Linked DNA regions of Homo sapiens: all the other regions are reported to be linked to region 1. Evidence: microRNA targets listed by miRTarBase, many of them from high-throughput screens and not tested one by one. Region 1 holds a microRNA gene; each other region holds the end of a gene's coding sequence.
Evidence for each region. Region 1 holds the annotated microRNA hsa-miR-629-3p (GUUCUCCCAACGUAAGCCCAGC, at 1,539-1,560, opposite strand). A microRNA usually pairs through its seed, bases 2 to 8, with sites in the 3' UTR of a target mRNA and lowers its output. Matches are read on the target gene's strand: a 7mer-m8 pairs with bases 2 to 8, a 7mer-A1 pairs with bases 2 to 7 and ends in A, and an 8mer does both.

Region 2: miRTarBase lists PPP3R1 as a target of hsa-miR-629-3p. Seed matches in the 3' UTR shown: 7mer-A1 at 702-708 and 7mer-A1 at 1,151-1,157.
Region 3: miRTarBase lists WNK2 as a target of hsa-miR-629-3p. The part of its 3' UTR that is shown has no 7-base or 8-base seed match.

The regions. Positions count from the first base shown.
Region 1 is chr15:70,077,849-70,081,101 of GRCh38, forward strand. MIR629 (microRNA 629) reads right to left here and starts at 1,620; the gene lies at 1,524-1,620. All of the region lies in intron 4 of TLE3 (TLE family member 3, transcriptional corepressor), which reads right to left. RefSeq lists enhancers at 471-1,077, 1,078-1,684.
Region 2 is chr2:68,178,168-68,181,420 of GRCh38, reverse strand. It overlaps PPP3R1 (protein phosphatase 3 regulatory subunit B, alpha), which reads left to right. Exons shown (of 6, transcript NM_000945.4): 6 at 411-2,564. The coding sequence ends at 458. Among named protein-coding and RNA genes, the nearest start is that of PNO1, 22 kb to the right of the region's middle.
Region 3 is chr9:93,319,879-93,323,131 of GRCh38, forward strand. WNK2 (WNK lysine deficient protein kinase 2) reads left to right here. Exons shown (of 30, transcript NM_006648.4): 30 at 489-691. The coding sequence ends at 514. Among named protein-coding and RNA genes, the nearest start is that of FAM120A, 130 kb to the right of the region's middle.

The sequences.
Region 1 (3,253 bases):
GCTCATATCCCAGGCCAACTGTGTCAACAATGGCCCCCACTTCCAAACTGCCCAGCTCAGACCCACTGGGACTCCACATTGACACATGTGTGGGGCACTCTAGCCAGGACACCATACATCAGGGTTTCTCAAACACCATGCTATTGACATCTGAGGTCAGATAATTCACTGCTGTGTGGAGCCCGTTCTGTGCACTGCAGGGCTTTTAAAAGCATCCCTGGCCTCTCCACCCACTAGACACCCGTCATTCATACTCTAAGGAACCCAGGAGGATTACTAAATAATCATTATATAAATTGTTAATCTAGTTAAGTGGGAAGAGCTCTCCCAAACAGGGTCCTTCCTCACTCTGCTTATTTTTTCCTCGCCTAAATCAACTGATAGTAGGAATGGGGAATGAAGCAAAAAAGTCCGGGTTGGATAGGGCAGGAGTTCTAGAAACAAGCATAGGCTGCAGCTCACTCCAAACCGGCAGAGTAACAAGTTCTCTCACCTTTGAGTTCATGCACCAAATAAGAATAGAAAGATATGTAAAAAACAAAAAGCAAACAAAAATAAACAAAAAAAACCAACCTTACTGTTTAGGAAGCTCACAGGTCCAAGGCCTGTTATCTTAAACAACAATAGAGCAGTGTCTGGCACACAGTAGCTGCTCCGTAAATGTTTGGCCCAAAGAATAGTATCACTGGCATCTCTGCATTTATTGAGACTTCATATTGCAGTGACCCCTTGCTGTGGATCTGGGCCTGCCCCAGCATGGGCAGCATCTGTGGGAGGGGCCGTGGTGGATGGAGTGTTGACATACACTTGGTGGCCAGTGGCCCAAGCCCTTCACCAACGGGGTGGGGTGGCACCTCCAAGCCAGGCCAATCGCAAGCCACCTAGATGGGTCCCTGGCCACTACTCCTCCCCACAGCCAGGAAGGCAGGGGCAAGGTCAGAACATCCCCAGTCATTCTGGCCTCCTCAGCAACTATTAACTCTCACAGTCTCTGGGAGAGCAGGGAGGCAGGGTGATTATAAAAGGGTTCTGGCTATGGCCTCCTTCCACTGGTAAACAGGCCAAGGGTCAGGGTCTCGGGAGTTGACAAAAAAGAAACGTAGCTGACCTTGCCCTTCCCCACACCCTTCAGCAAACACGTGGCCAAAGGCTTCCCACAGACAGGATCTTCCCATAGGGCTGGTCTGGAGCCCAGCTCACTCTGGTTATGAGGACAACGGATCTCCCAGGATTTATGTAGCCATCCGGGCCATCAGGTGACCACAGCTGGGTGGCTCAGGGCAAGTCCTCTCTCATTCTCACCCCTCCACCCTCCTAAAGTAGTTCCTGCCTCCCAACACCACAAACAAGCATCAACTGAGGGCTATCGCAACAATGCCACACAGATGCAGAACCTTCCACAAGCCTGGGGTAGTGGCATTCAGGCTGTCTTTCCTGAGGCCCATGTTCGACGAAGAGAGGCCTCTCTGCAAGGCAGGAAGGACTTTGGCACGTCACCAGACAGGACTGTGTAGGGTTGAGGCAGGCAGAGGGGAGGGGCTGGGCTTACGTTGGGAGAACCTCCTGGTTCACCGTAAAAGTTCTCCCAACGTAAACCCAGCCCCTCCCCTGGGAAAGGGACATGAAGCAAGCACATCCCATCCCTCCCAGCTGTCACTGTGCCATCATCTGCTAGTACCCTCTTGGGGTCTCCCCACAAAGTGGAAGCAGGGATTGGGCCTCCCCCATCTCTACAAAGGCTGCCCAACCCTGAGAATGGGCTGCGTGCACTCTGCAGAGTCAAAGCATGAACAGGAAAGCTGTTCGCTCAACATTTTAAAGAAATGTTTATTTTTTGGAGGGTGGCGCTTGGGGGAGGGGAAGTTCCTGGAAATGGAAAGCTGGCTTAACAGAAGCCCTCCTAACAACAGTAATGACCGCTGATATCACCCACCCAACTCGCCATGTGTGCATCCACAATAACCCCGCGGAGAAGGCGCTTGTCAACATCTCCACTTTTCAGATGGGGAAACTGATGCCCAGCCATTAAGTGATTTCACTAAATGACTTCCTACCAAGAAGCCAAATTTTGACATTTCAAGAGAGCTTAGAGAAATATTTTTGAAAGAAAAACCACCATTAAGGTTAATAATTGACAGCACTTCTGATTAGAACAGCTGTTAAAACAGCATTGGATCCAACTCAAACAAGCTCTAAACATCAGTTCCAAAAAAGGAAAAAAAAAAAAAAAAATCAAGTGTGACTTCAACAATTGGGACAGGTCACAAATCACAAACTGGAACTCGATCGTATGTTGGAAAACTCCTTTTGGCAACTTGGCGCAATCCGTTATCGATAAGGCGGCTGTAGTTTCCAGAGGCCGACCTCCATCCTTCCCTCCATCTCGGTCCCACAAAGCCACTGCTTTTGAGCCAGGTCTTCAGAAGCGAATCTGAGAGGTGGTGGGAGGTGGGAAGATGGCTCCCTTTGGAAAGCACTTTGGAAAAGGTGTTCAGGGAGGCTGGTGCCGCCTTTGAAAGTTTCTTTTCAAGTATGGTTCAAAGCAGGCGCTTTGTTGGTGGAAAAACATTGTTCCTCAGAAGGAACTAATCTACTAGATACAGACAGAGAAGCAGTTCAGAGAAATGGGGACAGAGGTCCTGCTACATCCGGAATCTGCACTACCAACTGGGCGCTGGGAGTAACATCTGCCCTGCATCTCTGTCAAGATTGTTAGGCAAATAAATGACAGAAAACAAGATAGTGGGGGGCAAGTGTAATTTCCCAAACAGCAATCTGTTCCATGCGCCTTAGTAGCTCCCATTTGCATGATCATCTCCTCATTAAAGCAGGACCTCTGAACATCTTGCTGTAAACCGAGGGTACTTGAGCATTCTAAAAGTCTATTTCTCTAACCACAGTCTAGTATTCACGTTTGCTGCTACTTCAGACTATCCTTGGCCCTTGACCCAAGACACTAAATTAAGGGAAACGGAGCCTGCTCTTGATCTGTACCCCCCAGCAACCTCCTGCTCCTGGGCTTGCAGCACCCAGCCAGTCCTTGCCCTTATTTTTAATTTAGGTGACTGTGTCCAACACACCGTCGAGAGCTACTTCCACCAGAGAGTCTGTCTGCTAGTTAGTTTTAAACTGCCCTGTCGTGTGTACCTGTGGACTCTGAATGCACAATTCCTTTTAACCTCAGCCAAATAAAGGCAAGGAGAAGAGAAAACTGCCCCTTCAAAGAGTGTGTTATGCTCCAACGCCACGCAGA
Region 2 (3,253 bases), not on the chromosome of region 1:
GCTAAAGTAATTTTTTTTTTTTTTTTTTGAGATGGAGTCTCGCTCTGTTGCCCAGTCTGGAGTGCAGTGGCGCGATATAGGCTCACTGCAGCCTCCAACTCCCGGGTTCAAGCGATTCTCCTGCATCAGCCTGCCCAGTAGCTGGGACTAGAGGCACACGCCACCACACCCGGCTAAGTTTTTGTATTTTTTTAGTAGAGACAAGGTTTCACCGTGTGTTAGCCAGGATGGTCTCGATCTCCTGACCTTGTGATCCACCTGCCTTGGCCTTCCAAAGTGCTGGGATTACAGGTGTGAGCCACCACGCCCAGCCCCCTAGTAATATTTTTTAAAATTTGATGAAGTAGTTAGACCACGAATGAGGAGTTTCTCAGACACTGTGAAGCTTGATTTGTTCCTGTCTGTTGCAGGTTGTAGGTGGCCTAGATATCCACAAAAAGATGGTGGTAGATGTGTGACTCTTATCAGAGAGTACCACCCAACACTTTTGCTTTCTTCTCCATCTCTGAAGATCTGCTCAAGACGTCCAGCAATGCTCTCTGTGTATTTAAATGGAAGTATTTTTCTCTGTGAAGCCACATTTTCCAACATGAGCCTCATGAAGCCAACTAAGTGTTATTGAACTGTAATTCTCTCAATAACTCAGTGTAGCACTTTAAAGTCTGAAGGACAGCAACATGAAAAGAGCATATCAATGTGGTGGAGAAAGGGAAGGGGTTGGCTTTTTAATTTATTTTTCTTCATCTTTTATAACAAGAAAGTATCTATATATACATATGTAAATATTTATATATAGATATATGTAGCTTTCTATATATGTAGTAGGTTGGCTTTAATTTAATATACTTGATTCAGAAACAAAACAATAGAGTACAAAAGTGCCAAGCAGAACATAAAACATCCTTACTTTTATTTCACACAGTTTTATATATAGATAGAAGACTGTACAATTTGAGCCGGGTGTTAGGCCAGCTATTTTCCTTTTCCTGTGCTTTCTCCTTTGAGAGATTGACAAAGCATTTGTTAACGTCCTATTATTTACCTTAATTACATTTTTGTAACAAAGGAGTCTGTAACTTTATTTATACTTATGAATATATCCAGGGACTACTTCTCATTGCTGAGCAGCTTTTAATACACCTCTGCTTGAGGAGAAAGTCTAGTTCATTGCTACTGCCAAGAGCTAGTTCTTGTGTTCATATAGTAACTGCACAGGGCTTATAGCTGCTTCATTCTGCTACTTTGTAACTAGGAGCCATTGCATTTATTAAATGTCCCTCAGTAACGTTAAGTGCTAGTTGTGATTTTATACATAAAGGCCAGAAGCTGTCTGAGGCAATCATGATTGATTGTATGTATCACTTACTGAAGAATACCTGAAGTGATCATGTAACTACTTATAAGGGATATCCATTTGTTTGATTACATGGGTAAATAATTTGTCATTAAACTTGTGTTTGAATCATGAATTCCCTTGTTTCAAAAGACTTGCAGCTAATCTAAAAAACTGGTGATATTTAATATGCATGTATGTATCTAAACACCCACATATATTTGTGGTTTAAGTGTGAGAAATCTTGCTAATCTATATGCCACAGAAGAGCAAAATTGTATCCAAATTTATGCCACTTAAATTTCTTTACCACGAGGGATAGAGCATGCATACTGGTTTTTTTTTCTTGATTTGCCCATATAATTGGTAATGGATAACTTAATAAATTTGTGTGATATAAAAGTAGTGTATCATGTTCTACTGTTTGATCTTATCCCTTCCCATTTCTGCAAAGGTACTGTTAGCTGGAAGAAAAACATTTTGGTTAGCTTTGTATGACAGTAGTCTTTCCCTTTATAGTTTCTCTATAAAAACTGGTTTTAAAATCAGTGGAAAAGGGCAGGTTGAATCAAGGTGAATCAATCTGAAATTGAGCACACCTGCCTGCCATCGCTGTTCCTTCAACTGAGTGCTGCACATCATGGGCTCTGTCTGTGAGAGAAAAATCCCGGTGCTTGGTGTCCTTGCATGACATGGAGTTTTGCATGTAGATCAATTTAAAATGTACCTCTTGTTTACATAATTTGCATAATTTTAAAAGATAATGTTGCCAAACTTTGGAAATGTTAATGTTCAGACTGAAAATCTCCACTACATGTAACTTTCTTCCTCTGGATCAGTGGCATGGCTTATAATCCCAGCCAGTGGTTTGAACTGTTCCAGTGTCAACTGCCATGTGCTCTGCTTCAAGGGGGAACTAGCCTTTTGTGAATTTTTTGTACATAAGTATTTGTTACAAATATTTTAGCAAATGCTTTCTATTTCTCTTGCTTGTGCATATCTTGGCTGGCGTTACAGAAAAATAGTGTAAACATTATTTCCTTACCGGGGAATGAGGGTTTTTTCTTTTTCTTTTTTTTTTTTTTTTTTTTTAGTTTGTGTGTGGGGGTGGGTAAGGGAGGGGATGGTTTATGTTGAATGTTTAGTTTTTCTTCTGCATGATACGTCATGTTGTGGGATCTTTAGAAAACTTCATACTGTATGAATAAGAAAATAAAATATTTGAAACTTGCTTGAATGTATTCAGTGGTCTTTGATGGTTTCCATAGCTATGAGAATTTTTTTTCCTCTCAGGCTTTTAAATTCTTAAAAACAGTCTGGTAAAGTGACATTTAATCTCTATAAAAACCTACAAATTCCTGTAGTACTCTCCCATCACCTCCTGCCATGACTTCCCTTACTGCTACCCCTCTCTCTACTCCAGCCATGTTAGCCTCCGGTGGTACCTGGAGTCTTGGGTTTGTGTCTCTTAGGCCCTTGCGCTATCAGTCCCTTTTTGCCCCTTTCCTTTCCCAGTATCTCATAGCTAATGCCTTCAGGTGTTTGTTCAGTTACAGCCTAGCTCAAAAGGAACTGTCCTGGCTACCCTATTAAAAAATACAGATACGCCTGGCTCTTCTTTCCTCCTCTATATTTTTCCTTCTACAATGGCATTTATTCTTTTCTGACACAGTTTACTTACGTATTTTGTATTCCCTGACTACTGAATAAAATGAAAGCTCCAAAAGGGTAGTGATTTGTCTCTTGTTCACTGATAGCCCCAGCCCAGTTGTCCAGAGTATTACCTAGCTCTTAGTGTTTACCCAATAAATAATTAATAAATTAATGTGATACCCTGTTTATGCAGGTTGTGATTTTATAATAAATGCTATTCAGTATTTTTAAAAGGTAAAATTGGCATTTCTTGAGATTACATTTACT
Region 3 (3,253 bases), not on the chromosome of region 1:
CTGACTGTGGTCCCTCCTGCGTGTGCATTGCAGGCCTCACTGTGAGCAAGCTGAGGGTCCCAGTGTCTCCTGCCCGGTCCACTGTGGGGGCTGCCTTGGCTGTGGGGCCACCTCCTCAGAGAGCTGCAGTGCCAGCCTTCGAGCTTCTGCATGGAGGGAGGAGGAACACTCATCCCAGAGCCTCCTGTTTTGGGTGTTGGAGGGCAGCTCACTCCCCAGATGCTCCAGACGGTACAGGAGCAGAGCGTCTGTTTGGGTTTCTGGCAGCCGTTCAGTGTGCTGACTGGTCACACAAAGAAGGGTGGTCCAGGTGACAGAGGCCGCCAGGGCTGTGCTGAGGACAAGACCATCTACACAGGGCGTGGGTCATGGCAGAGCTGGCGCAGCCTTCCCGTCGGCAGCTCCTGGGAGGGTGTCAGGGCCTGGCCCTTGGCGAGTGGCCAGCACTGCGGTGGGCCCACAGTCAGCTGCGCGGTTTTGTTTTCCAGATCCTGAGAGTGAGAAGCCTGACTGACCCCGCCTAGACGCCAGGCCCACTTCACGCCGTCTAAGTGGAGAAGTGACGGACCCTCAGGGCCAGCTGCTCCTCCTGTCCAGTTCACGCTGTTTTGTAACCACTTTCTAAGCATTTTTTATTCACAATTGGAAACACAAATGTAATGCAAGAATAAAAAATATTTTGGGGCAGAAAGGACTTTGGTTTTTCAAACTATTTCCTCTCTGGTGGCCCTCGGCCAGCCAGGTGACTGGGATGTGACAGGGGTGGGGGGACATTCCCAGGACCCTGGCATGCTCAGGATAGCCCTGTTCTCTGCAGGGCCCTGGAGGTGGCGGCCCCGGGGAGGCTGATCTCCAAGTCCCCCCGATGCCAGCTGGCACGGACTCGGGGTCCTGGGTGCCTCCTGGCCTTTGCTCACGGAGCTCCATGAGGCAGACCCTTCCCTCTGGTCTTTGGAGGCTTGAAGTCACCCACCACCCCCACACCCACCTCCCAGGCACCCTCCTTCCAGAATTCACCTGCACTGGCAGGGAAAACACCAGTGGCCTGGGGCCAGAAACCTCTGGCTGTGGGGTGGCAGGTCTGAGACCACTGGCTCCTTGGAGGGCTGCATACCCCCCACTCGTGGGAGGGGTCCTAAGTGTGAGAAACGAGGAATGTTGACATGGCCTCACCAAGGAAACGTGCCGTGGTAAGGTCCCCACACCCTAGCCTGGCCAGCAGGCACAGGAGCCTTATGCTGGGTCCAGAGGTCTAGGGAGAATTTGGGGTCCCATGCATCACAATGAAAAAGCATTGCATCTCTATTTTCATTAATGTCTAACTGCAATTTAGCATTTCCTCCACTAACAGCACCTGGACTTCATCACCACTAGACACCACAGATATTGCTGTGCCATGCCATTTACATCCATGACACAGTGCCCTTCCCTGAGATGTAAAACTGTCCAGCCGGCTGATGGAGCAGCGCTGCCTGCCTATCTCAAACATGAGTCTTCAGGGCACAGTGACGCTGCTTCCCCACGGGAGTGTCGGAGATGCCATCCCGCTGTGTGCGGGTGACCTCGGAGTCCTGGCTCTTCTCCGTGTGATCAGCAGGGTAGGCCTCCTCCAAGCCTCAGCTGGGAGCAGGGATGGCACGGTGCTAGGAACATGGCTTCCCTTGGTCTTAGTTTGTGTTCTCTTCTGTTGGTGGCTCATGTGACTGGTTTTCTGTGGACCATAGTAATGCAGTTTGCCTTTTCTTTTTTTTTTTTTTTTCTTCTTTTTTTAATGAGACCGAGTCTTGCTCTGTTGCCCAGGCTGGAGTGCAGTGATGCAAACTCAGCTCACTGCAACCTCCGCCTCCTGGGTTCAAGTGATTCTTCTGCCTCAGCCTCCTGAGTAGCTGGGATTACACGTGTGCGCCGCCATCACACCTGGCTAATTTTTGTATTTTTAGTAGAGATGGAGTTTCAGCATGTTGGCTAGGCTGGTCTCAAACTCCTGACCTTGTGATCCGCCCGCCTTGGCCTCCCAAAGTGTTAGGATTACAGGCCTGAGCCACCGTGCCCGGCCGCAGTTTGCCTTTCAAACTGCACATTTATTTTAATCATTTTCTTTAAGTGAATAATAGTATAAATGTCAATGGTAAAATTTGGTGGTAGTATGGTAGTAAACAGTAGTACAATGGTCAATGAAATGGTAATGGTCAAGCCAGCACCCTCTGAGGAGATTCTGCACAGTGCACTTCCAGGACTCTGGGGCCCCGAATCCCAGCTTCATCTGCTGCTCAGAACCACCTAGCAGCCCTCCAGGGCCGCTAGGAAAAGGCCCCAAGCCTCAGCCGCAGAATCCAAGGCTCTTGGTGTTCAGCCTCACCCACTAGACGCGTCCGTGCTTCAGGCTTCACTGCTGCTGCACAGCGTGCCAGCTGGGCCCGGATATTCTTTTTTTTCTTTTTCTTTTTTTTTTTTTTTTGAGATGGAGTCTCGCTCTGTCGCCCAGGCTGGAGTGCAGTGGCGCGATCTCGGCTCACTGCAAGCTCCGCCTCCCGGGTTCCCATCATTCTCCTGCCTCGGCCTTCTGAGTAGCTGGGACTACAGGCAGCCCTGCCACCAGGCTGGCTAATTTTTTGTATTTTTAGTAGAGACGGGGTTTCACCGTGTTAGCCAGGATGGTCTCCATCTCCTGACCTCGTGATCCACCTGTCTCGGCCTCCCAAAGTGCTGGGATTACAGGCATGAGTCACCGCGCCCAGCTCCGGATTCATTCTTGACCCTCCCAGTCCCGGGTTCTCTCCTCCTCTGGGTTCTATCACACAGTCTGGGTGGACAGCTCACGAGAGCCCCAGAGACCTCAGCCCCTCATGGAGAGTTCTCATGGGTGCATATTATTTGTTATGCTTGACTTCCTGAAAGCAGGGACTTAAAATTGTTTCTGATAGCCCTTCACCTTCCAAAACAGTCACTGAGTGAAGCTGGCGCGCAATGAATTATGCTGATGAAGGCAGACTCCTTTGGGCAGATGAAGCTTCCAGTGGGTGCTTATTGGCTCTGATCACAGCATTTCTGGGATGGAAAGGACCCTGCCAGGCCTCTCCTAGGACAGCAAAGGCAGCATCACCTGGGGCCAGTCCAAGCTCCTCCTGCAGGGTCAAGGCAGCCAAGCCACAGCCTCTGCTCTCCAGTGTTGTTTTGTTTTTAGCTGACCCCAGCATCCAACCAGACTTCCAGTGTCCAGGGTGATATTGCGCCTCATCTCCAGGCTGAACAG